Linked DNA regions of Homo sapiens. The protein of the gene in region 1 interacts with the protein of each later gene in a pairwise test. Each region holds a gene or a part of one and is shown on either strand. Other genes may lie near its edges.

What was found.
Region 2: the proteins of EOGT (region 1) and SLC7A14 interact in binary tests that used the Homo sapiens proteins (3 or more experiments, as listed by UniProt).

The regions. Positions count from the first base shown.
Region 1 is NC_000003.12:68,972,116-68,984,885, reverse strand, and holds the end of EOGT (EGF domain-specific O-linked N-acetylglucosamine transferase isoform a precursor), read left to right. Parts: intron 1-2,013; coding exon 2,014-2,075; intron 2,076-5,098; coding exon 5,099-5,218; intron 5,219-6,450; coding exon 6,451-6,553; intron 6,554-7,121; coding exon 7,122-7,268; 3' UTR 7,269-9,661; downstream 9,662-12,770.
Region 2 is NC_000003.12:170,572,971-170,585,740, reverse strand, and holds part of SLC7A14 (solute carrier family 7 member 14), read left to right. Parts: intron 1-12,770. UniProt on the Homo sapiens protein: Imports 4-aminobutanoate (GABA) into lysosomes. May act as a GABA sensor that regulates mTORC2-dependent INS signaling and gluconeogenesis. The transport mechanism and substrate selectivity remain to be elucidated.

The DNA.
Region 1 (12,770 bases):
GATTTCAGAGGAGGCAGAAGCTACCTCTGGCCCCAGTCCATCAGGAAGGGGCAGGCTGAGGAACAACATCAGGCCACTGCAGAGAAGTCCAGTAGAAAGGTATAGTGCTGGTAGATGCTTTAGTGCATGTGTGAGGTTTTCAGATCCAGTCATGCGCATTGCCCAGATGATGGCACCCAAAGGCGAAATTTGATCATTCAGCCCCCAACTCCAAGCCAAAGAGCACCCAACTGGCTGCTTCTTTCTTGAGGATTGGATGTTACTAGAAAGGCAGCTCCTGGGAAGGGAAGAAAGCACCTTTGGCTATACTTTGATTAATAAACAGGTATGTATTAATCAACCCAAATGGCCTCATTAAATCATGGCTTGTGGAATTCTGCCCAACTTTAGGGTTTGAATAGCCATCGGAAGGGATAGGGCCACCTTTTTCGTGCAACTAGAAGTCATGAAAAAGGGCATGCTTGCCCTGAGACCGTCAGCACACATGATTCCTTTTATGTGGGCAATCTTGTTAAAAGACCAAGGCTTATGCCATCTGCCATCTCTCCTGTAAAACAGAATTCTAATCTTCTTACCCCTTCAACTCTTTATAAGATTTCAGTGGCTGTCTGGAGAGGGAAATTTCCATGTTATGACTGTGTGCGTGTGTGTGTGTGTGAGTGTGAGAGAGAGAGAGAGAGGGGAGGGGATTAAATGTTGGTCACTGCTTGTTGCTTTCTGTAAGCAGGACAATAGAGTGCACTGGTTAAGAACGCAGGTTCTGGGGTCAGAAGACCTAGATTTATTTTTGGCTGTGCATTTGGGAGCTGTGAGATCCTGGGAAAGTTATTTCACTTCTCTGAGCCTATCTTGTCTAATTTGTAAAGTGGGCATAGTACTAATACTTACTTGGTATGATATTTGGTATGTTTTTTTCTTTTTTTAGACAGAGTTTTGCTCTTGTTGCCCAGGCTGGAGTGCAGTGGCACGATCTCGGCTCACTGCAGCCTCCATCTCTCGGGTTCAAGTGATTCTCTTCTCTTAGCCTCCCGAGTAGCTGGGATTACAGGCATGTGCCACCACACCCAGCTAATTTTGTATTTTTAGTAGAGACGGGGTTTCACCATGTTGGTCAGGTTGGTCTCGAACTCCTGACCTCAGGTGATCTGCCCGCCTCGGCCTCCCAAAGTGCTGGGATTGCAGGTGTGAGCCACTGCGCCCAGCCACTGGTGTGATTCTTACGAGGATTAAGTGAAGTAAACCTAACGACACTCTTAGAAATGCCAGCACCATTTACATGCCCCATCAATGATACTTGCAACTGTTGATGTTGCTGTTGCAGTGCAGTGCATGCCACAAGGCAACATGACACAGTTGCAGAAATTTCTGAATGGTGGTGATCCCCCGTGGCCTAATTGTGAGGGACAGAGAACCATGACTATATTTTTGATAATAGATTAACAATGCTTTGTTACTTTCTGTTTGCTAGAAGAATAATTGTTTTTCTATGTAGAAGTACTGAAAATGTTTTTCTGCCAAGACCTTAGTATTTTCAGAGGATGAGGTTCAAAGCGCTAGTGTTGTCTGAAATGAGATAATGGATGGGGCAAAAACTCTTAAGGTAAAGTCTAGAACATTTTGGGCATTCTGATGCCCAAAAATGTGTGTTGAAAGTTGAGGGAATAATAAGCAAATGGTAATAACAACAGTTAATGGTTAGCTATTTCTGTGCCTAGCACTTTACTTCCCTGAATTGTCTTCTCCTTTCAGCCTCACAGCAACACAGTGCATTGGTATCTGAGGGAGGTAGAGTCGTGTGTTCACAGGTGGGGCCTGGATTTGAACTTAATGACAGTTCAGAACTATTGACCTGAATGATATTTATTTATTTTCTTTTTATTTGTTGTTGTTGTTACCAAATGATATTTAATATCTGAAATAGTATATGCAAAAAAAGAAATTTTAGGACTCATAAGGGAAAAACAGAAGTGAAAGAAGGAAAAGAAATGCTAAATGTTTCTCTTTTTTTCCCAGCTTGTAAATGCACTGAAAACAGTATCTACATTTGAAGTCCAGATTGTTGATTACAAGTATAGGTAAGTAATAGCCAATCTCAGCAGACACTGTCAACTTTTGCTTGGATGAGGTCAAGGGGGCTAGAAAGCATTTTTCCAGTGGGAGCCATTGGCATTTGTAGGCCCAGAAGGGACAAGTAGACACTACAGATGAATGAAATGGGCAGGTGAAGTCCCTGGTAACAAGGGCAGTTACTCTTTGGCTTTCTGGGGCCTGATGTTGTCACTCCATCTCCTTATTCAAAAGAAGTGATGAATTCAGATTTTCATTTAAAATTTCAGAATTTTTTGTTTGTTTGTTTGTTTGTTTTTGAGACAGAATCTTGCTCTGTCACCCAGGCTGGAGTGCAGTGGTGCCATCTCAGCTCACTGCAACCTCCACCTCCTGGGTTCAAGTAATTCTCCTGCCTCTGCCTCCCGAGTAGCTGGGACTACAGGCGTGTGCCACCATATCCGGCTAATTTTTGTATTTTTTGTAGAGACGAGGTTTCACCATATTGGTCAGGCTGGTCTTGAAGTCGTGACCTCAAGTGATCTGCCCGCCTCTGCCTCCCAAAGTGCTGCAATTAAAGGCATGAGCCACCACACCCGGCCTAAAATTTCATAATTTTAAAAAATTGGCAGACTGGCCACGATGGCTCACGCCTGTAATCCTAGCACTTTGGGAGACTGAGATGGGTGGATTGCCTGGGCTCAGGAGTTCAAGACCAACCTGGACAACATGGTGCAACCCCATCTCTACTAAAAAATAAAAAAAATTAGCCGAGTGTGGCAGCGTGTGCCTGTAGTCCTAGCTGTTCAGGATGCTGAGGCAGGAGAATGGCTTGAACCCAGGAGGTAGAAGTTGAAGGGAGCTGACATTGCACCATTGCACTCCGGCCTGTGTGACAGTACGAGGCTCTGTCTCAAAAAAAAAAAAATTGGCAACTAGTTCAAAATTTAGGTGTTATAAAATTTATCAAATATTTGATAACATTATCAAATGTTTGATAACAAAAAAGTTATCAAAATTTAGATGTTATAAACCTAATTTGCCCTGCCTCCTGCCAGATTTCAACATCTGACTGAAAATTATTTATATGGGGATAATTTGAGGGTCAGAATAACATGAAATTTTAAAAAAACTTACCAAATATTTACATTTCTTTTAAAACTCTTAACACAACTAAAAGGCTTAGAAAGACAGAATATGCCTATTATTCACAGTTTGGGTAATTCCTGTTGCTAGAATTACATCTTCCTGGTAAAAGTAGTACATGTTTCTGGTTGAAAAGTCAAGCAGTATAGAAAAGATCAAAAGGAAAAGTGAAAACTTCTGTCTCCATGTCCACCTACAGTCACAGCTGTGTTTCCCAAATCTAACACTGTGAACACTTTCCAGTTAAAAGAAGTATACATATCCCAGCATGTGGGTATCTAATATAGATACACTTAATTTCAGAGAATGTTGGCATGGGAGCTTTGCACTTCATTCATCATACATTAGTTCATTTGTGCAATAAATCTCTATTGGGGACCCATGAGCTGGTCACCAGTCTCAGCAGTAGGAATCCCATTATGGCGGATGGCATAGCCCTGGTCTTGAGGATCTCAGACACTGAATAGAGGTAAATAGCAATTGTAAAAACAGCTACTATTTATCGAAATGTACTTTTATGCTTACTTGCTTTATCTCATCTCACGCTTTCAACAGTCTTCTGAGTTGGCCCAGCTAGTCCCATTTTACAGATTATGTAAAATCTGCTGCGCTGAAGAAATGTTGTGTCAGTGTTGCTTGAAGAAATGAGTGAGCCAATATGGGGCCCCCACATCAGTCCCAAAACCATTCACCTAGATGAGGCTGGGAAGAAATGGAAAGAACTGGGCAGGGCACCTCTGAGGCTGTATCATTGACTGGCTTTTAAGGATATGTTGTAGTTTCTCAGATAAGCAAGAATGATAATGAATTCGTACCTTGCCAGTCTGCGGGAAATACTAGTAACATGTTGGCATGGGGATTGGTGAGTGCTGACCACAGGCGTTTCCACAACTGGCAGTGCAGGGGTATGTTCACCTGGGTGAATGGCCGTCCTTCCCTTGGCATCAGTTCACATTCCTGGAGAAACTGAGGCACATGTTCTCGTTGTGATACACATACACATGGAGCTGTCATCTTTTTCCTATGCGGAGTTTTTGTTGTTAGCTGGTGTAAAAGGGAATTCAGCTTCCCTTCGTAGATCCAAAATAATCTTGATCATTTATTTTTCTTTACTTTGGGTAAGTTGGGGCTGGGAGATCTCATTTCTTTCTGTTTATTCAGAGTGTCACCCTTATTCCAGCATTTCTCCCTAGCCTCACCTCAGTGAATTGTTTGGGGACTGATTTTTGGTTCAAAGTTTACACACTGGTTAGTGTCTTGGATTTAGAGAACACTTGTACAGTCCTAACATGCATAAAATTGTGGATTTGTCTGTTCCAAAGGCAGGATAATGCCCTGGTGGTATCTGAGATCATTTTGGAGGTACCCAGAGGGCATTATAAAAACTTAAATCACACAAGGAGAAATGTTTCTTTTTAAAAAGTGCTTCTATTGTCCTAAGGAAATAGTTTTTAATTTAGTGCTAGTGTGTCACAACATCTCTTTAACACTTGCCAATTTCTCTTTTTCATGAAGAAAGAGCAGGCCTCAGGCTCTGAGCTTTGTCTTGCAATAGTATCTACCTCGATTTGAACACTACTTAGTTTGATTATATCAATTTTTACAGTTTTGTTGATGTCATATGTCACTGCTTTTCCATTTAAGACAGATATTAAAGTTTCCTTTAAAAAAAGTACTTAAACCTAAAAGGATAGGTGAGCTTACTTAGAAAATATGTTAAATTATTAAGAAACTTATTAATTACTAGAGCGCACTTGAAATTGGCAAAAATGCTTCTTAAAAATGGAATGTGGTTTAAAATGGGCAATACACTTTTATAAATATCCTTACTGTGAATCATGAACTAACTCAACCTAATACTTCTCTCTTCTCCCCATCTCTCTCATGTTATTCTGTATGTTCACAGAGAACTTGGGTTTTTAGATCAACTAAGGATCACACACAACACGGACATATTTATTGGAATGCATGGAGCTGGTCTGACCCATTTACTTTTCCTTCCAGACTGGGCTGCTGTATTTGAACTGTAAGTGTTGGGAGGCAGTTTTACACTGAAGCAACTGATAATGCTTTTTATGCATGCTAAAGCTTTCATTCTGAGCATCAAAAGGCTTAATATTTAATCATTCAAAAAGAGAAGTCACATCATATAGACAATCTGGAAAGAAAAGAGGCCTGAAGCTAAAAATACAAAGTCTGCAGCCTGCCATTGCACTTAGTAAGCCAACTACCCCTTCATCTTCCCATCCCGAGCATGATATGGAAGATGTGAATCTGTGGTTTCCTTATTCTGAGTTTGTTCCTGCATACCTCCCAAACTCTGAGCGTCTTCTTGCAAACAGTGTAGTTATTGTGTTAAAAGAAAGCATTTATGTCTCATGCACGACATAGCTTCAAAACACAAGCCAACCACTTAACTTAGTGCTTGCTGATCCCATACACAGGGAAACTGAGGCCCTTGGGTGTTCATGATTTGCCCAGGGCATACTTTTAACTCAGTGGTTGGTTTATGGAGACATGACCTTCCCTCTCATAATAATTCTGCTGTTGGCACTGTGCTCCATTTTAGGTCTTGAGACACTAATAGCAGTTACTGTTACCTGTTTCCCCCCATTATGTCTAAATATCTGGGTTCTATGGTTTCATTTTAAAAGTGATTTGACTCTGTATTTAAATAGGAGGCTATTTAGGAAAAAAGTTGTCATGAACTTCCAATGCCCTGCAAAACATTTCAAAAATATATATGATATATGTAGAGAAATAGCCAGATAATGGATTCTATCTCTGTCATTTCTCTTATAGAGAGAGAAGGAAGGATGGAAGAAAGGAGAGAGAAGGGAGAGAAATGTAACTGAGAAAACTCAAGCCTTATAGTCTAATGGACCTGGGTTCTACTTTTGCATCCTTCACTATTTAGTTATATGACCTTGGAAGTGTTACCTATCCCCCTTGCCTCTTTCATACATTTAAAGACAGAGGTATTATAAGGTCATGCCAAGTCCATAGGCAGCAGGCCCTATTGAATAAGGTCAATTCTCTCCATTCCATGACCCTATTTTGTTTTTTAAAAGTTAAGTTCATTTAGTTCAGAGAATATTTTTACATTCTCTTCCTCAGTCTTGTTTACTGTCTTCCTCAGTCTTGTTTACAACCTTTTGCAAGGACATATTTGGGAGCTGCATTTTATTTTCGCAGAGTTGTTGATTTGGAAAAAACCTTGGACAAAAGCCTCATGTTGTGACACCCTTGTGTCCTTAGGTACAACTGTGAAGATGAACGCTGTTACTTAGACTTGGCCAGGCTGAGAGGCGTTCACTACATCACTTGGCGACGGCAGAACAAAGTCTTTCCTCAGGATAAGGTAAAGTTCAATCACAAAACTTACCTTGCTTCATTTTTAATTGGTTTAAAGTATCCAATTATTGATATGAAAAATGGTTATTGAACTTCAGTGCTGCAAAGATAAACTGTTCTCTGGAATACTGAATTGTTTTATTTTATATTTGCAAATAGGAGAAAAAGGGGAATTAAGCAACCTATATCTTTAATGTTACAAAGGCAGCTTCGTGAAATTTGGGCTTAGAAAGATCTATTAGATTATATATAGAGACGGGATCAACAAGCAACAGCCCTGTGGGCAAATCCAGCCCATGACATGTTTTTGTAAAGAAAGCACAGTCATGCCTGTCTGTTTATGCACTGTCTCTAGTTGTTTGTGCACTTCAACGACAGTGGAGTAACTGTGACTGAGACCTTAGAGTCAGCAGAGCTGAAAATATTTATCATCTGGCCCTTATCAGGAAAAGTTTGCTGGTCTCTGATGTAGAACATAAATTAGTTGCCTTAACCAAAGTAACATAATTTTCCTGCTGTAGAGAAAACCATGCCCTCATTGAGTTATGGATTCGTGTTTTGGTTTATTTTCACAGGGCCACCATCCAACCCTGGGGGAGCACCCGAAGTTCACCAACTACTCTTTCGATGTAGAAGAATTTATGTATCTTGTCCTTCAGGCTGCAGACCACGTATTGCAACACCCAAAGTGGCCATTTAAGAAGAAACATGATGAGCTATAAATATGCTGAGTCTGTTTGCAAAAAGAGAGTGTTTAAACACTCCAACACCCAGACTTAGAATTAAATCAGTAAAGCAATCTGTTATTTCCTATCCCCGAATTACCTTTTCTATGCCAAAACATACCTTCAGGATATTGTTATGTGTTGTATAGATGTTAAGTGTTTCATGTGGTTTTTGTGTCATTGCTATTTATCAATAGCAATAATTTTGCACTGAAAACTTTTTATAGTTCAAAAATTAAGCATGGACTCCCCAGTATACTTTAACTTTCTTTCTTTCTTTTTTTTTTTTTGGAGACAGAGTCTCACTGTCACCCAGGCTGGAGTGCAGTGGCATGATCTCAGTTTATGCAACTTCTGCCTCCCCAGGTTCAAGCGATTCTTTTGCCTCAGCCACCTGACTAGCTGGGATTGCAGCCTGCACCACCACACCTGGCTAAATTTTTGTTGTTGTCGTTGAGATACAGTTTCACTCTGTCACCCAGGCTGGAGTGCAGTGGCATGATCTCAGCTCACTGCAACCTCTGCCTTCTGGATTCAAGTGATTCTTGTGCCTTAGCCTCCCAAGTAGCTGGGATTACAGGCGTGCACCACCACGCCCAGTTGATTTTTGTATTTTTGATAGAGACGGAGTTTCACCATGTTGGCCAGGCTGGTCTCGAACTCTGGGTTCAAGAAATCCTCCCACCTTGCCTCCCAAAGTGCTGGGATTACAGGTGTGAGCCACCACGCATGGCCCTGAACTTTCTCTTTTTAGGAATACCAAAGTTTTCAACTTTTTCAGCTTTAGAATTTGTAAATATTTTTGTAGAATATCATATGACTGTAATTCCAGAGTGTTCCAACTTGTTTATGATATATTTGGGTAAATTTACAACTGTTCTTTTATTTGCCATAATCTGGTTATAACACTGTTTGTGGTAGGAAAGGAAAACATGCAAAACATACACACACACACACACACACACACACACACGCAGAGTTGTGATTCTCAGTACCAAGCTATAGGACCATGTTATAGATCAGCGTTTAGTCACCTCCAGGTTATATGCATCGAGAACCTGAATAAATCATGCCACTATATTAATTTATATTACATGTTTCATATTTAAATCATGTTTTCCTAAAATGTAGCAACTACATGTGATAAAAGCAAATTAGAACATTCTGTAGGACTGTCTTGCATACCTTCTGTCTGGTTTCCACTGATTCCTTCTTAGCCATGGAGAGCATTTGTGATTAATTAATTTATATATGAAATAATGGTTTCCATTTTATGCGAGTATTTGTAACTGCATATACCAGTGCGTGTGCGTCTACCTCTGTCAGCATGAAAGTATTCCAGTCTTTAATTTCAAAAACTTCAAATTAGCCTCATGAAGAGAATTTTTCCCTGTGAAAAGTAAGACCAAGAAAAAACAAACTAAAGACATGTGACTTATTCAATGAAAGTGAAAAAGAAGCTCTAAAACAGTGTCATTGATTAAAAAGAATATCTGGAATGTAGCCCCACTCTTTGAGTGGGATTCATTTCTTACTGCTTATGAACTTTCAATTTAGTAGTCAGAAACCATGGATTTATTTTACTGCACAATGTGAAGTTTACATTTTATTAACACTTGAGTAGTCTGATTTAGAGACTAGTTACTTCTATTTTTTAAAATAATGGAGTAACAAATTACAGAATAGCTAAATAATTTTTTAAAAATATTTTACAGTTGTAAAAAATATCCATCAGAAAAATGACACACAAAACAAAATATCTGGACCTTTACAGAAGACGTTTGCTGACCCCCACTTTAAAGGATTGGAACAGTCTTCTAGAATTGAGGAATATTTATTAAAATACCTGTAAAGAAAATAGTGAATCACTGTAGCAATGGCTTTGATTCAGACCTTAAAATCACATAAGAAGAATTACAACATGTTATGGATTTTTAAGTGGCAGGTATTGTAACTGTTTTTTGTGTGCAAAATACTGAGTAACCACTGGGAAAATATTTCAGATGAAAGGGATGACAAAAGCATGTTGCGCTTTGCATCAGCAAGGCATTGACTTCTGAAAAAATGATCTGAAAAAAGTTTCACCGTTTGTCTTCTTACCTCATTTTAAGAAGCATGTGAAAATGGGATACTATAGACTACTGAGAATTTCAGAAATTGAGAACAATTTCATAATAAAACGGCTATATTTGAAGAGAGAATACATTTTATATAAACAGGAAAATACATTTGACACTTTATGGAATTTTATGAGACTTTTTGTGGGAACAGAAGGTCTTCAAATTGTAAAATGTAAAGATTGCTCTTTTTATTAAGTCTTTAACAGGGATGTATTTCATTGTATGTTTTGGGTATGGCTTTGGAATAAATCATTTTATATTTTATTTGAATATCAGAACCATTTTTAAGGTTTTCTGTGTCTGAATGTTTCTGTGCTTCCTTTTTGGCAATCTGGTAGCTCTTAGATTATAAAAATTAAGTACCTCTCTGATGAAGAATTCAGTTTGATCAAAAATGCCTTTTATTTAGCAGTTTATTACATGATGCTTCTATAAATGTTATATTGTATAATCATTACCAAAATGACATAAGAATTATGGTTCCTGTTTTTCATGTGAAGAATGCTTCCCTAAAGATCACAAGCCTTCTGATTCCACGTTCACAGTCTTCCATTCGTTTAGGGAAGTCTTCCATTCCACTCTAGGGAAGTTATGGGACTTCCCTGAAGATCACAAGCCTTCTGATTCCACGTTCACAGTCTTCCATTCGTTTAGGGAAGTCTTCCATTCCACTTTAGGGAAGTTATGGGACTTCCCTGAAGATCACAAGCCTTCTTCTGATTCCATGTTCACAGTCTTCCATTCGTTTATTTACTTGTTCATTTAGTAAATATTGATTGGGCTGCAACTTTGTATCAGTTACTATTCTAAGTTCTGGGAATACAGCAAAGAATAGATAAAAGTTATTGCCCTCATGGAGCTTACGTTCTGATGGAGACAGACATTAAACAACATAATGGAGCTTACATTCTGGTGGAGACAGACGTTAAATAACATCAATAAGATGTACCGTGTGCCAGATCCTGATACGTGCTATGGAGAAAACCAAAGAAAGGGATGTGGAGTCTGGGGTGGGGTGGAGTCCTGCACACTTAAGTAGGGGGTCAGGGAAGCCTTCATTGACTCAAGACTAGAAGGAGGTGAGGGATGGAGTTATGCAGATAACTGGACAAGGAGCATTCCAAGAAGCTAGAAGAAGATGTGCAAAGACCCCAAGGCAGAAGCATGCCTGGTATGTTTGAGGAAGAGCAAGGAAGCCAGTGTGGCTGGTGTGATCAAGGGCAGAGGAGTAGGAGGCAAAGTCAAGAGATAATGCAACAAGGGTGTAGATGGCAAGGTTCTGATGAGATGGAAGCCATTGAAGGGATCTGAGTAAAGTAGTAAAGACCTGCCTTATCTCTAACACACTAACTCTAGCTGTTACGCTGAGAATAGGGTGTGGAGGGATGTCTTAGGAAAACAGATTCTGGGATGGAGATTTGAATGCAGATAGTTTTTGGGGGGAAGGTTCTCACGATCAACACCTGTGAGGGTGTAAGGGGTCCAGGCTTGGGCAGAGGGAGAAATTGAGGGGCAATGCCAGGTGAGGCCTCAGCGGGGTGCTGTAGGGCTGGAGTGGCCTTTCAGTGAGGTCCCCAAATGAGGCAAGAAATGCACGAGGCAAGAAATGCACGTAAGTTCAAACAGGGGCCATCCCAGAGAGGGGTGGGGCCTTAGCAAGGCCACTTCCTTCAGCTGAGGGCAAGGCCTGGTGAGGAGCTCAGCTGTGACCCATCAGCAGCCAAATGTCAAGCAATCTGGGGACTGAGTGCTTCAGTCTGAAGGGGATCTCAGCGGCACATTCACTAGCGGGTGAGGTGGTGCCGAGGTGCCGTTTAGCTTGTCTTACTCTCCCTCCTGCTTCCTGTCAACTGAAAGTTGGATCTAAAGTCTCCTTAAGATTCAGATTGAATGTCTGTTTTTAAAGAATACTTATAGTTGATACCGTGTACTGCTGACTGAATATTTTAGGCTTTGTGGGCCACATATGGTCTCTGCTGCGTATTATTATTTGTTGCCCTCCTCCTGCAATCTTTTAAAAATGTAAAAACCGTTCTAAGATGTTTAAATAGAGGTTAAGGAACTTGCCCAAAGTCACACAGCCAGTAGCAGAAGGATTGGATATAGGGCTTTCTTGGTGAAGGAATTTTGAGTTAGGTAGGGATGTTTACATGTAATGCAGGAAGGAAGGAGGTCGGGGAGGAAGAAAGGGAGGAAGGAAGGAAGGGAGGGAAAGAGAAGGGAGAAATTAGTTGGGGGATATAGAACATGGAAAAAACAGTCCTGGAGTTGGGCCTTTTCTTGCCGTTAAAAAACGAATTTTTTGTTTTGTTTTTTAGTTTTCCGACAGGTCTCTCTCTCTCACCCAGTTTGGAGAGCAGCAGCGCAATCACAGGTCACCGTAGCCTCAAACTCTTGGGCTCAAGTGATCTTCCTGCCTCAGCTTCCTAACTAGCTGGGACTACAGGCATGCACCCCCAGGCCCGGATAATTTTTCATATTTTGTTGAGATAGAGTCTCACTATGTTGCCCAAGCTGGTCTCAAACTCTGAGCTTAAGAGATCCTCTGGTCTCAGCCTCCCAAAATGCTTGGATTACAGGTGTGAGCCACCACTCTTGGCCCAAAATAGTTCTTTTTTGAAACCTAGTCAGTAGAGAGAAAATACGGAAAATACTTGCTTTTTCTAAACTAGGAGCATATACACAAATCAACTCAGGTATGATTGCCCTGGAGAAAGCAATTGTTTAAAATAACCTACTCCCAAGCAAGGGCTGTTGCGAGAATACTTTAATACCTTGTTCTCTTTCGGCTTACTGGGACATGTCAAACGATGTTATAACCATTCTTGTCAAAACAGAAGAAGTGGGTTAGAGCAGTTTGCTCACGGTTTGTTTCTCCCTGGTTGTGTGCCCTCGCCTTGGCTGGTAGTGCACAGGACCACAAGGTGGCAGTCAAGCCCTTCCAAATGGCCTCTTGGGTGGTCTGAAGCCTGTGTCTGAATCTCATTGTAGATTCCAGGCACCCGAGTGTTAGGAGTAAGGCCTTGCTTCTGAGTGTGATGGATTTTGTTATTCCTGATTTGAGGGAAGGCGGGAAAATGATAACGGACCGTTTTCAGGTTTAAGTGTGGAATTGCTTAGCTGCCGCCAATAGCTGGATCCTGTATAGTATCTCCTGATCATCTTGTGGGAAGAGCACTTGGTCCCCAGAAGATTATTTCTAGTGACAGAAGCTGCTTAGGGGAATGCATTCTTTTTGACTTGGTAGAGAATTTGATGAAGACTCTAGCTCTATTTAGGATCTATAGATGGCACATGATCTCTTCAGTTCTTCTTCAGAGCAAATTTCTTTATGTTGGTCTTCTAGGTTATATTTTCTTACTTGTAGATTGGTGGTAAT
Region 2 (12,770 bases), about 100 Mb from region 1:
AGGGGTTCCCTGGAAGAACCGAGGAGGTGGGTCGGGCTCTTTCCTGCTCTGGCCCGGAATGAGGCCCCGACTGCCCGCGGTCTGGGGGCACCGGGCTCTGACTCGCGGGAGCTGCCGGGCGGGGCGGGGGCCAGCGCGGCTCCGGCGCCGCTAGAGCGGGAGGCAGAAGGGGAGCCGCGAGCGGAATGCGGGCAGCCTAGGTCTCGGCAGACGCCGGGCCCGTCCTGTCCCCCGCCTTGGCGCGCACCCCGCACGGGCAGCTCCGTTCTCCGCCTCGGACCGAGACCATGAAACGGAGACGCTTTTCCGGCCGCAGACTCCGGGGAGGTCGGGAGCAACGTCTGCCCTTTTACCTGGGAGCAAACTCCTCAAAGGGACTCCCGCCGAGCCCAGCACCCCGACCAGGATGGTGGCGCCCCGAGGGGCGTCTGTCCCCGGAGAGTGGTGACTCTCCCGGGAGCGGCGAAGAGGACGTGACGGGAGCGGTGTCCAGGGAAGCTCCCTGCCCAGAGCCGGCAGCCCCAGCAAGGGGAGCTCTCCTGCACTGCTTCAACCCTCAGTCTCCTCTCTTCTCCCATTCCAAAGCACATCAGCTCCCCTCTAATCCAAGAGGGCCAGGTTAGGGCTGCGTGGCCACGCGGGATGCAGCCCCCACCCTCCTTCTCTCTCCTGTGTCACCCTGCCCCCTCCCCAAATGAGTATTTTATATTGCGATTGAAGAGTGAGCAAAGCAAAGGCGAGAAGAGATGCAGGAAGGCTAGAGCAGCGGGGCTCGCTCCTGTTCTGGCACTCCTCATCCCCCCACCTGTGTGAAGCTCGTTTCCTTGAGATTTTGAGCGGAGACACTCAAAGGAACTGGCTCTGGCGAAGGGATCCCCGCCTGAGTGTCGGTGAACGTCACTGGCCCGAATTGCCCAAGGGCCGCAGGATGTCACCCTGCCTCCCCCTAGGTATAGGGTCTAGGAGAGCGCTGGGGGCAAGGTAGCTCTCCTCCTCCGACTGAGTGCAGGGAATGGCGCTGTCCGCGGTGCTGAAAGTTCTCAGAGGCTGGGTGCTAATACCGCCAGGGCCCACATTCCCTGCGAGCAGAAACTGCGTTAGAACCCTAAAGGGTTCTAAGCAAGCGACCTAGAGAAACAGGAGAAGAAGGGGCTTTGCCTTTCCCGGTTTTCTGCTTCCCCAGGACTCCGCTTGGGAAAAGGTTCCCGGCTTTCCTGAGTGGAAGAGCAGGAAGCGGGTGTCACTTCAGGATCCAGTTTTGCTAACTTCGGGAGCTTCCTCGTTCTACTTCCTATACCTGAGCAGTGAGACTTCCTGTCGGTAAAGTGTTGAAAGGCAGTTAGGGATGCTGTTTTGATAATAAACATTTCTGTGGCTTTCAGGAATCAGAGAATTGTTAGGCTACACAAAGGAGGGGCTTCATGGTTGTAGCTTTTTCCTCTTCTTAGAACCCTTCTTTCCCCACTGCATGTTATTTACATGCTCTAGATAAAGATCGCTAAGCAGCCCTGTATGTTTGTTTCTTTAGCTAGTCTTTTATATTATGGGCAAGATGGGGAAAGGATTGAGCCAATTTGGGGAGGCCTATTTGTACTGAACACCTCTATCTGCTGGGTAATAATATTTCATTTAAACTTCACAATAGCTGCCAACCAAAAGTATCACACAGAGAAGGAAACAGAAACTTGATTCCAGAGATTGGATTCAAAATCAGATCTATTTAACTCAAAGTCCAAGCCATTTTCATGCCTTCATTTTGGTATTTGGCTCTGAATAGCTGTTATTGGAGATTATAGCAGGAGAATGACAAAGGAGGGAGGCCTGCTCTTCTCTTTCACACACTCTCCTCTCTTCCAACCCTTTTCTCTTTAATCCGTTCACCCACTCACTGTCATGCACTCCCACCCTCCCAACTGCTTTTGCATGCTGCTTGAGATACCACTGTTCACACAACTTCAGCTCCAATATTATGGAAACAAGTTAGAGAACTAAACCAGCAGCCTTTTCTAAAAGAGTAGCAGGGCTTCAGGAAGTCTGGAGAACTAGAGTCCACATGTACTTTCATATTTAGAATTATACTGTTGAATTTTAGAACTAGAATAGCTTTGAATATCATTTAGCACCATCGTTTTACAAGAAAGAAAACTTGGAAACCAAAAGATGGTCATTAGTCTAAGTCACATGATTGAAAAATTAGAACCCAGTTAACTTGATTCCAGGCCCAGGGCCTTTCCCACTATTTCATGGTGTCTGAAATACTCTTCCATACTGCTTTCTTTGATTATCTTTGACTAAACGTCAGCATCAGTGAACTAAATTAAACAACATGCCAAAAATACAAACACTTAACATACAAGCATTCCTCTTACCTTTCTTCCAACTCCTTTGTCTTCCAGCTCTTTCCCCTCTGGTCCTACTATTCCAGTGTTGTCTAACCCAACATACCTGGGAGATATGACCCACCTTCCTCAGTAACAGTTTTCTCTGAAGCAGCAATTCACAAATGGGAATGGTAGTGTGTCATTTCTTTACTTGCCCTATCTTGTCTATATCTCCTCTTCTATGACCTATTCCCCAAAAAATAATTTTCCCAAAATTGGTTACCCTAAGCAACTGCCCATGTTCTCATAGGGACTGGGAAAAGGCCCTAATAAGACCTAAGGATTTTTATAAATAAAGATCATTATAAGTGCTAATATCTATGAAATGCTTATCATATGTGAGGCACTATGTGAAGTTATTTCATCAATCATTTTACTGAATTATCACAATTCTGTCAAGTAGGTGGCTCCACTAAAGATGGTCCTAGGATTCTAGTTCGCTCTAACATACAGCAGAACCTGATGTTCTGTTCATTTCCTCTTTCTTCTCTTTCCAGCTCATAGTAAAGTCTCATCTTCATCAATTGGATTTTTGTATTTAATTGATAGTTCCATCCTGCTCCAAAACATAGCATTTAGAAATTCAAATTCAGTTCAAATGACACTGTTTTGCTCTCTCATCTCTTAATATTTACCAAACATATTCTCCCCATTTGTTATCTCTTATTTAAAAATTCCCATATGGCTTCTTATTGATAATGTCAACATTCTGCTTCAAACCTTCTCTAGAGCCAATTAAGGTATAATTTGTAATTAAATACATAACTTCTATTGTACCTTCACTAGGTGATCTGTCAAGAATGCTATTGCTGAGGTGCTCTGGGCCCTGTGAACCAGAACCTTAAACTGTCTAGAACTGCTCTGTCCAACATGGTAGTTGCTAGCCACATGTAACTATTTATAATTAAATTTTAATTAAACTTTTTAAAATTAAAAATTTAGCCCCCCAGTCACACTAGTCATATTTCAAGTGCTCAATAACTCTATATGGCTAATGACAACTGTGTTGGACAGGGCAGATATCAGAAAATTTTTATCATTTAAGAAAGTTGTGTTGAAAAATGCTGCTTTAGACAGTACTAAACACACCCTCACAGCAACCAAGAACTAGGAACTGGGAAGAAGTAAGGACCTACTCTTCTTTGAATCTTCTGCCAAGAAAGAAAGAAAAAGCCACTTATGCCTAATACATCACCAGTAGCCCAAAGATACCTAGGACAATTAGGCTATGAAGGAGTGTGCATGTCTTACTTAAGGAGCTGGTAGCCTCTGGAGTTTGCTTCATATGAATTCTATGTTACTATAAAGTAAAATATTCCATGAATGAGGTTTGCTGGTTTCATGAATTTTGACTTAGATACAATCTGAAAGTTCCAATTCAAAATCCAAGTTTATAGATTACATGTATATGTAATAACATGTGTGTGTGTTTATCTTGTCTTAGTAATCATAGTATGATAGACATGGAAAGAATATAAGACTTGGAGTCAGTAGTACAGGTGTCACATACTACTTGGTGACATTATGAGGCCCTCTAGAGCTCCATTTCTCCATCTCTAAGATGTTGATGAGAATTGCCATAACTATCTCAAAGGACTATTGTAAAACTCAAAGTGTAGGTATACGAAAGTACTTTGTAAGGAGCATGATTGAATCTGCAATGGTTTATTATTTTATATAGATATGGTACAATGTACAAATAGGGTAGTTCAGGCTGAATGCATTTCTGAATGATTTTAATCTGATATGACTGTATTTTTGCCTTTGTGGTCATTTATTTCACTGAAAAGTGGAACGGTGAAGAAAAAATTTAGTTATTGAAATTTCTGATTGGTTAGATTCTATTAATTGAAATACCGTGCATTGTTTGTTGTTTAGTTTATTTGGTCCTGAACATTTTCTTCTCAGGATTAAAAAAAATAATAACTAGGAAATCTAAGTTGTTTGGAACAGCTTTTACCTTTTAACTAATAGTTTTTAAGTAATCATCAATAATGAACCCATCATGGTAATAGGGGTTCAGAAATAACAAAATACAAGCATTATGGATATTCCTCAGTGTGAGGGGGTGAGAGGGATAATTTTCAAAACATATTTTTACTAATTACAAATTGAAATGAGCTTCTATCCATTCTCATAGATCAATCAGAACAAGAATAATTCTATTTCATGCATTGATTAAACCAAAACAAAAGTGAAGGTCATTAACTTGACTGAATTATTGAGTTTGCATTAGGGATTCTAACCTTAAATAACAAGTCTTTATTCATTCTCTAAGTTGAAATCTGTTGGGGTCATTAGGAGAACCTTATGCATCTGGCTAACATTTACTCCCAAACCTGGCATCTATGACCTACTCCCGCACTTTGATCTGTGTATGCTATTTATGCGTCAAGTAAAACTGCTTTTCAGATGCAGCCATACCTTCTATAGTGGCTCACGATTTTGATACTTAAATATTTTTCTCTTATAACACAAAGATTAACACAGTGCTCAGATATTGTAGAAAATAAGCCTGGAAACAAAGCTATTCCATCAGATGTTTCTTCACTGTATTTATTAGGTTTTATCATCTTGAAAACTCAACGAAGTCACTTTATTTATTCATTCATTCATTAACAAAGCACCTGAGAATCAAGCTGAGTATGACCAAGGGCATGAGGTTTTATCTCCAGTTCCAGAGATCTAGTTTACCTTTGTTTAGAGTTAACAAAGGTATAGATGCTACCTTGTAAGATGCTCTGCCAGGTAAATAGTTGAGATATACACTTAGCCACTGTTTCTGGTCAAGCCTGCTGTCCTCAAGCCTTTGTTGCATATGGGACTATATTACTGAAGGAAAAATAAGCGAAGCTGTTAACTCTGGCCTCTAGTAGATGATGCTAGCTTTAACAATAAACATATGTTGTTGGGCGTCATGATTTATTCACTTCATTGGACTTGTTTACCTCTTGGAAAGACCTGGATTTTGGAAAGGGGAAAATGCCATTACCTTGGAGCTGAAAAGAGTTCTTCTCTGTCTGTAGCTTAAAGGATTTCTCTAATTGTAGATCCCAAGAGATAAAGAGAACTGACAATGTAGCTTTGAAACAAATCCTAATAGCATACAATCATCCATTTAATCAATAACATAGTTGAAGAATGTCCTATTTTGACACAAAAATGTTGTGGTTAAGGATGTTTGGAACACATGGATGATCAATAAATATTTGGTGAATTCAGACCATTGTTCCAGGTTAATTCATGCCATACACTCGTCTATCTCTACCAAGAATTCAGTATTCCCTATGGCATTTTCCTTTAGCAAATAAAACAGGAGGCAAACACAGTATATCAAATCTTACCCTAATAACCACACTTCTAGCCCTTCTCGGGGCATAAATAGTGATGGCCAAGATAGACTACTCCTGAGAACCGTGTCTTGCTGCTTCACCCAGAAAACAAAGCACAAATCAGCCCAAGGGCCTTGCATTTCACTGTGATGAGGCAACTTCAGAAACTCAAAGCTTAAATGGAGTTGTGTGTTCTTTTCCACTCTTATCTTGAAGAGATACCTGTCATTTCCTTCAGAAAGTATTTGGCTGGCCTTCATGATAGCAGCAGGCAATTGCTATTGTTCCTAAATTCAGAAGAAGCTTAGCTTAGAATGAAAGCACATATATTAATTAGAGGAGAACTAGCGACATTGCAGTCTGATGGTTTACAGAATATTATCCTTTTCCAGGAATAATAAGGCTTCCCTTTAACGGTTTTAACTGGTGATTACTGACAAAAATGAAAGAAAAACAGCTCATTCTATTCTAGCAAGTCAATAAGGAAACGCCTAGAATTAACTGATTCTTATTTGCCAAAGGCAAAATATTCCAACCCAATGAACAACAAATGATCAAGCTGGTTCTCATTTTCTCTTCATTTTAAAAAAATTTTTCCATGTTTTTGAAAAATAATCAGTAAATAAGAAACAATTGCACCCAGGTGTTTAAACATTCTGTTGACAAAATGGTCTTCAGAAATGGAAAGGCTTAATTGTTTGTTAGAGATTATACAACATATTATTATGTCAATATTTTATAACAATCACATAACTGAACTCTCTCACTTTAGAGAGAAATTGATGCTGGGAACACTCACCTGAGTTGATGTCAGAGGAATATGACTTGAGTCTTCTCTCTCTCAGGCAATTATAGAACCCACTCTGCATTTTTTAACATCATGCATCATTTCATTAGTCATGAAAACTTGTTTAGTCTATGAGTTTATCAAAGATTCAGGTTTATCTTTTCTCAAAGATTCAGGGAGTAGGAAAGAGTATGTGTTTGGATTTCAGATTATTTCCCTTTGTACCTCCAGGTGAAAGAACTACTGGTCAAGGATGGTCAGCAGGTAGAAATTTCAGGGGTGGAACTATAAGCCATAGAAAAAGATTCAAAACCTCAGCATCATCCATGTTGCAAGAACTTAGGCAAGGATTTAACTCTTCTTACTTTTTAATCTTCATCCCTAAAAGAAGTTATTTAGATTAAATAGTGTACAATATCCTGCAAGCCATAACATTCTATGGTTCGATGAAATAGGGCCAAGAGCTTGAATAATCCATTATTTGCCTCCTTAAGACCGAAGAATTAAACATAAATCAAGATTCTTATTTTTACATCATTATTTATCAGAAGTTCTGAATTTCATGCTAGTACCTTACCTGGAAACAATAATGATAATGATAGCTAATACTTATATACAATTACTATGACTTTATAAGGTTGGTAATGCTATCATCGCCATTTTACAGATGAGAAACCTGGATACTAAAGTAGTTAAATTACCTGCCCAATTTGACACAGGTAACAAGTTTGTGCTACCATGCTACACCGCCTCTATAAAAACCACAAATCTGACAGATAGATAGCTGATGTGTGCCATTTATAGCCACTTGACACACCAGCCAATTCTCTGGAGAATTTCTATTTTAGCTCAATTTTTTACTAGAAGAGCAACCAAGATGGTGAATAGAACTTCAGTCCTGTGTGTGGGAATCTACATTGTCTTTCTGTAAGATGGCTCTTGTGCTTTTGCAATTGATGTCATTGACCAATTGTTTACGTGATTCAGCATTGAATGTTGGTGCTGTGCAGGTGGCTGCATGTGGTGAGGACCACTCTTCTGCCTCTTCCCAGAATGTGTGGCCAGCCACACCACCAGAAATAGATGGATGCTGGTGCAGGATCAATCCAGCACCTTCTAATGCTATAAAGGTCAGCCCACCACATCTTTACTGTTCAGTAGAGTCTTCTAGCTTCTGCCTTTAGGTTTTTGACTCAGTGTAACAATCTAGACAGCTTTTACAGTAGAGAGGGAGAGCTCCCAGAGTGTCATTTCCTGGAGGTAGGCTTGGGTCAAGGCTAAGACTAAAACTTTCAAAATCATGTTGTGAAAATCGTTTTCTTCTCATTAATCCTATGTTAACAAATTAGTCATAAATACAATACACCACAGTACCCATCTGTTTCACTGTGTATTTCAATGTACTGAATATACAAATGGGCATTTAGCTCTTAATATGGTATATCTAACCAGCTGAGAATGCTCTGACAGTAGTCAAATATACATGTTTATTCTTTAGCTCTAGTTTCTGGCTTGTTAAACTAGCTACATATCCCATCAACACCAAGGCCAATTACGGAATACATAACTCTACTTCTTCCTCTGTGGTTTTCTTTTTTTTTTTTTTTTTTTTTTTTGAGACGGAGTCTCGCTCTGTCGCCCAGGCCGGACTGCGGACTGCAGTGGCGCAATCTCGGCTCACTGCAAGCTCTGCTTCCCGGGTTCACGCCATTCTCCTGCCTCAGCCTCCCGAGTAGCTGGGACTACAGGCGCCCGCCACCGCGCCCGGCTAAGTTTTTGTATTTTTAGTAGAGACGGGGTTTCACCTTGTTAGCCAGGATGGTCTCGATCTCCTGACCTCATGATCCACCCGCCTCGGCCTCCCAAAGTGCTGGGATTACAGGCGTGAGCCACCGCGCCCGGCCTCCTCTGTGGTTTTCTAGATACTCTGTGGGGAGCGGGATGGCCTAGGAGTCAGAAGATCTGCTTTCCAGACTCAGCTTTGAAATGTACTACCTGTGACACTTGGGCCAGCACCATTCACTACTTCAAGACTGAACTTCCTTACCTTTAAAATAGGGGTAATAGATCTTGCCCCTCACATTACAAATAGGGCCAGTGAGATGGCATTAATTAAAGCTCCTTGTTAACCATAGAGTTAGTCCAGAGGAAAGAGATGGGTTTTCCATCCTTTCAGTCTTTCCCAGCCAGAAATTACTCTCAAGCTGTTGATACCCAATTCTGAACCAGGGTTGACAGCTAAATCAATGTCTTCAAGGTTAAGAAGAGCTTGGATTTAAATTTGTAAATCTAGAAAATGGCACTTACAATAGGAGAGGCCTCCTGGTTTCTTCCAAATTAATGGTCCTCAACCTGAGGCAATGTCACCTCAATAAGGGGTATTTTATATTGTCACAGATACTGGAGGAGAGGGGAGTTACTACTGACTTTTGGTGGACTGGGATCTAGAATGTTAAATATCCTGCATTAGACAGAAAAATCCTGCAGAATAAAAAATGTCCTGTCCAAAATGCCAATAGCACTCCACCCCCACTGAAAAATACCGCTCTAAGTAATGTGCTGTTCCTGGTCCCTAATTCTCCAATTGATGCAGACAGAGAGCGTTTACTTTTCATCTCCACCCACAGGTGAAATCCAGCCATGCTCATGTGAGGTCTGTAGTAGTTATTGTTCAGAAGTATGACCAGACTTCCAGTAAGTTTACCAATAAGTAAAACAATGGGGTCAGAGATCAGTGGTTTTAAAATTAGCCCCCAGAAGCTCCTACAAAAAGCCTCCTCCAACCTCTGCAGGGGCAAAGATTCCCAGCAGGTTAATATGCCTATAATGTGAGAGCTGGCCTAAAGGTTGGCATTTAGGGATGCAAAATCAGTAAATCATGATTCTAAAATGACTATCTTTGCAATTTATTGAAGAAACATTGTAATATTCACTTGTTTTATGACAAGCATGGGCCTAGCTAGGCACTGGATATGAGACATAATCCCTGCCTCAAGTCACCAGTAATCTGAAAGTTCCACAGATGTAATCCCCACTAATTATGTATGCAACATGACACATGCTATAACATATTATGAGGGAGCCTCCAAGGAGAGACCAGGAAACAATTCACTTCCACAGAGGAAATTATAATTGAACAGTATCTTGAATGGTATATAATATTTTTTCAGGTGGATAAATGAGAGAGAAAGCTATTGTAGAAATGGGACCAGCATAAGCAAATGCTGAAGGTGTGAACAGAAATGATACAAGTGCAGGCTGACCTTATCTGGCTGGTGGGAGGTCATACTGGAAGGACTGAAGAAACTTGAATACAGATAGGTGGATGTATTTATTCAGCCAGGGGCTTATCCTTTGAACAGGGATTTTATGAGTATCTTAGGAATATCATTTGAATTCAGGGCTCATGGAGTCCAATCTTGTAACTAGAAGAAATCTCAGAAATCACCCTACCATGCTCTTTTCCCTATGTATTACAGTTGAAGTAGTTAAAACCCAGAGATATTGAGTGACTTGCCCAAAGTCAGCTAGTAAATTTGTGGCAGTATAAGAGCTAGAACCTAGTCCCTCCTCTCAGTTCATAGCATTTTGTCCTGCTCTGTGCTGCCTTTGGGAATTTTAGCCATCAATTGAGCATAACCCAATGTAACACACAAAGTGACTACTAAATATTCATGAAGCTCAAGTTTTCCATTGTTCACTATGAAGCTATACCATTGTTCCTTAATTACAAGCAGGTGATAGATAAGACCCTGCTTCTACATTCTGAGCTCCTTCTACATACAGCATTCTCTTCAGAAACACAGACAGACAGTACACTAACACATGAGCATGACATCCTTTGCCTGCCACACACATCCTCCCCTGCCTCCTCATTTCAAACTGCCAGAGATTATGGAGTCACAGCCTGAACAGAAGGCATCTTAATCTCTGGTGGTTCTGTAAATAATATGCTGTTCATGCTTGCATATAAATTATCACAGTCTCTCTATTTTCTAGATGAGGGAGGCTTCAGAAAGATGAAGCTGCCTGCACACAGAGCACATAAGAGATAGGATTTCAGACTCCAGAGTTTCAGCCCTCTTTGTAACAGGGTTGAATTTTTCCCTCATCTACATGCTCCTAATAATTTATCCAGGCTTATGGTCTTAAATTTCACCTTATAGCCAAATTAATCTAGTCTCTGTATATTTAGGTTTCTAAAATCAGTTACTTCTTACTTCCCTTTCTCTCTAACCACTTTTCCTCCACCCTTCATTCAATAAGCATTTAATAGAAATCACCTAAGCTAATCCATTCAGTTGATGAGAATAGAAACTGAGACCCAGAGAGGTGAAGCCACTTGCCCAGGTTTGCTCAGTTAAAAGCAGTACGGTGACTAGATTCCCTGACTCCCAGTCCAGGGCTTTGCCCTTCACACTATACTGCTATTTCCCAAGGATAAATAACATGGCATTTCCCACTCTCAGGCTCCCTCACTCCTTGCACAACCCCACAGGATGGATAGAAATGACTGATTGCATGTGCTCTGAGGTTCATTCCAGGACCTTTTCTAGAATTCCCACAACTTGTTATCCTTCATGCTGTATTGGCCCATCTATCACATTAAGAAGCTGGTTAGGGAAGAGTTTGACATACTTTCTGGTCTAGGATATTTATGATCAATGCCACCACTCAGGTAGTGATCACCATAGGAAACAGTGTGCTCAGGAAGAAAAAGGGCAGAGTCCATGGCTCCCATCATTTGAGAATAAGGCAAAGCTCACCCAGAGTTTACTGTAAGTGGCAGGATATTAGATTCATAATCCCAGAGACCAGGCAATTGGGCAATTAGATGGATTTAAGCAAGATTGGGAGTGGCCAAGAAAGTGAAAAAAGACAACTGCCAAACCACTTCTGCTTCAGGGGCAGGGTATTTTGCCTGGATTGATCACCATGATGCATTTCATTACTGTAGACAAAGATCACATTGATAAAAGACTTTTTTAAATCAATTGAACTAAAATTTTCCATTTATACATAACTTCTCAGGAATCGTTTTAAGACAAAACCAGATGGTATTTCAGTAAAGATTATATTGAAAAGAGAAGCAAGTAAGAGAGGAAAGAAACCCCAGAACTAGCTTCTCAGGTAGGGCTTTGTAGGGTCACAATTGTCTCACAGGCTGATCAGGCTAATTAGGTACAGAAGCTTAATTTTATCAGTTTTATCAAGAGTGATCCAGCTCTGAAGAATCTAGCCATGCTCCCCAGGTCCCAAGAGACTGATTTGTTAGCTAGATGCCAATATAGCCACATACAATAGAAGATGCTTCTAAGTGTGGCCCAGGCTATTTCCTTCCTAATAGCAGGACCATGAGAAAACCAAATGAGTGGTCAAAGATAACCTGTGGGCACAGTGTCAGGATTAATGGAGTGGGACAGACAGTCTTGTGAAATGTGCCATTCAGGCTGCAACAGAGACAAGAGAACTCTTCCAAACTCCACCCAAGAACACTTTTCAGGTTACCAGAATAGTTGTGTCCTTCAAAAACAGGGTCTTGTTCTCTCTGTTTCGCTAGTGGTGAAGAAACTGGCAAATTATTTTGGGAAAAGATGGAGACTTTATCTAGTCTTTATGCAGCCCCCATCTTCCTTAGGGTATTATTCTAGGCATGTTATAATACTCAACTCATAGCCTATCTTACTTGTGTCAGTGACATCTTGTCCAAAGCCCCTTACCAAATCTTTGAACTCCTGGGCCTAATTCTCTGCTAAGGCAATGAAGATAGATCAGCAAAATCATTATCATTATTCACGTACTTGTATAAGATCCATTACGATTAGTCTGCTTCTGAGAAAGTTGTTTAATTGTGGATGAACTGTACAGATGGTGAGAATCATGGTCTCAGGTGGCATGGCACTTGAATCTCATATTAGTGACAATCTTTTGTTGGTCTCCTTTGGAGAGTTCTGGTAGATGCCACTGATTAACCATCAATAATAAATAAACCATCCAAGTGGTTGGGTTATTTCTGTAAGGGACACATCTCTTGTATTTTGTGCTAATTCTGTTTGTGTCATTTCAGAGGGCACTATGATCTGGCCTTGCTCTGAGTGCACCTGAGTCTGGTTTATCCTTGTCAGTAATCTCCATGTGTGGACCCTGACATTTGAAACTGAATCTGTTAGTCACTCTCACTACAGAAAACAGTCATGTGGCGACTATGACTCATCTACAAAATGCTGAAGGAATAGACTCCCAAGAGGTTTTTTTTAAAAATCACGCAAC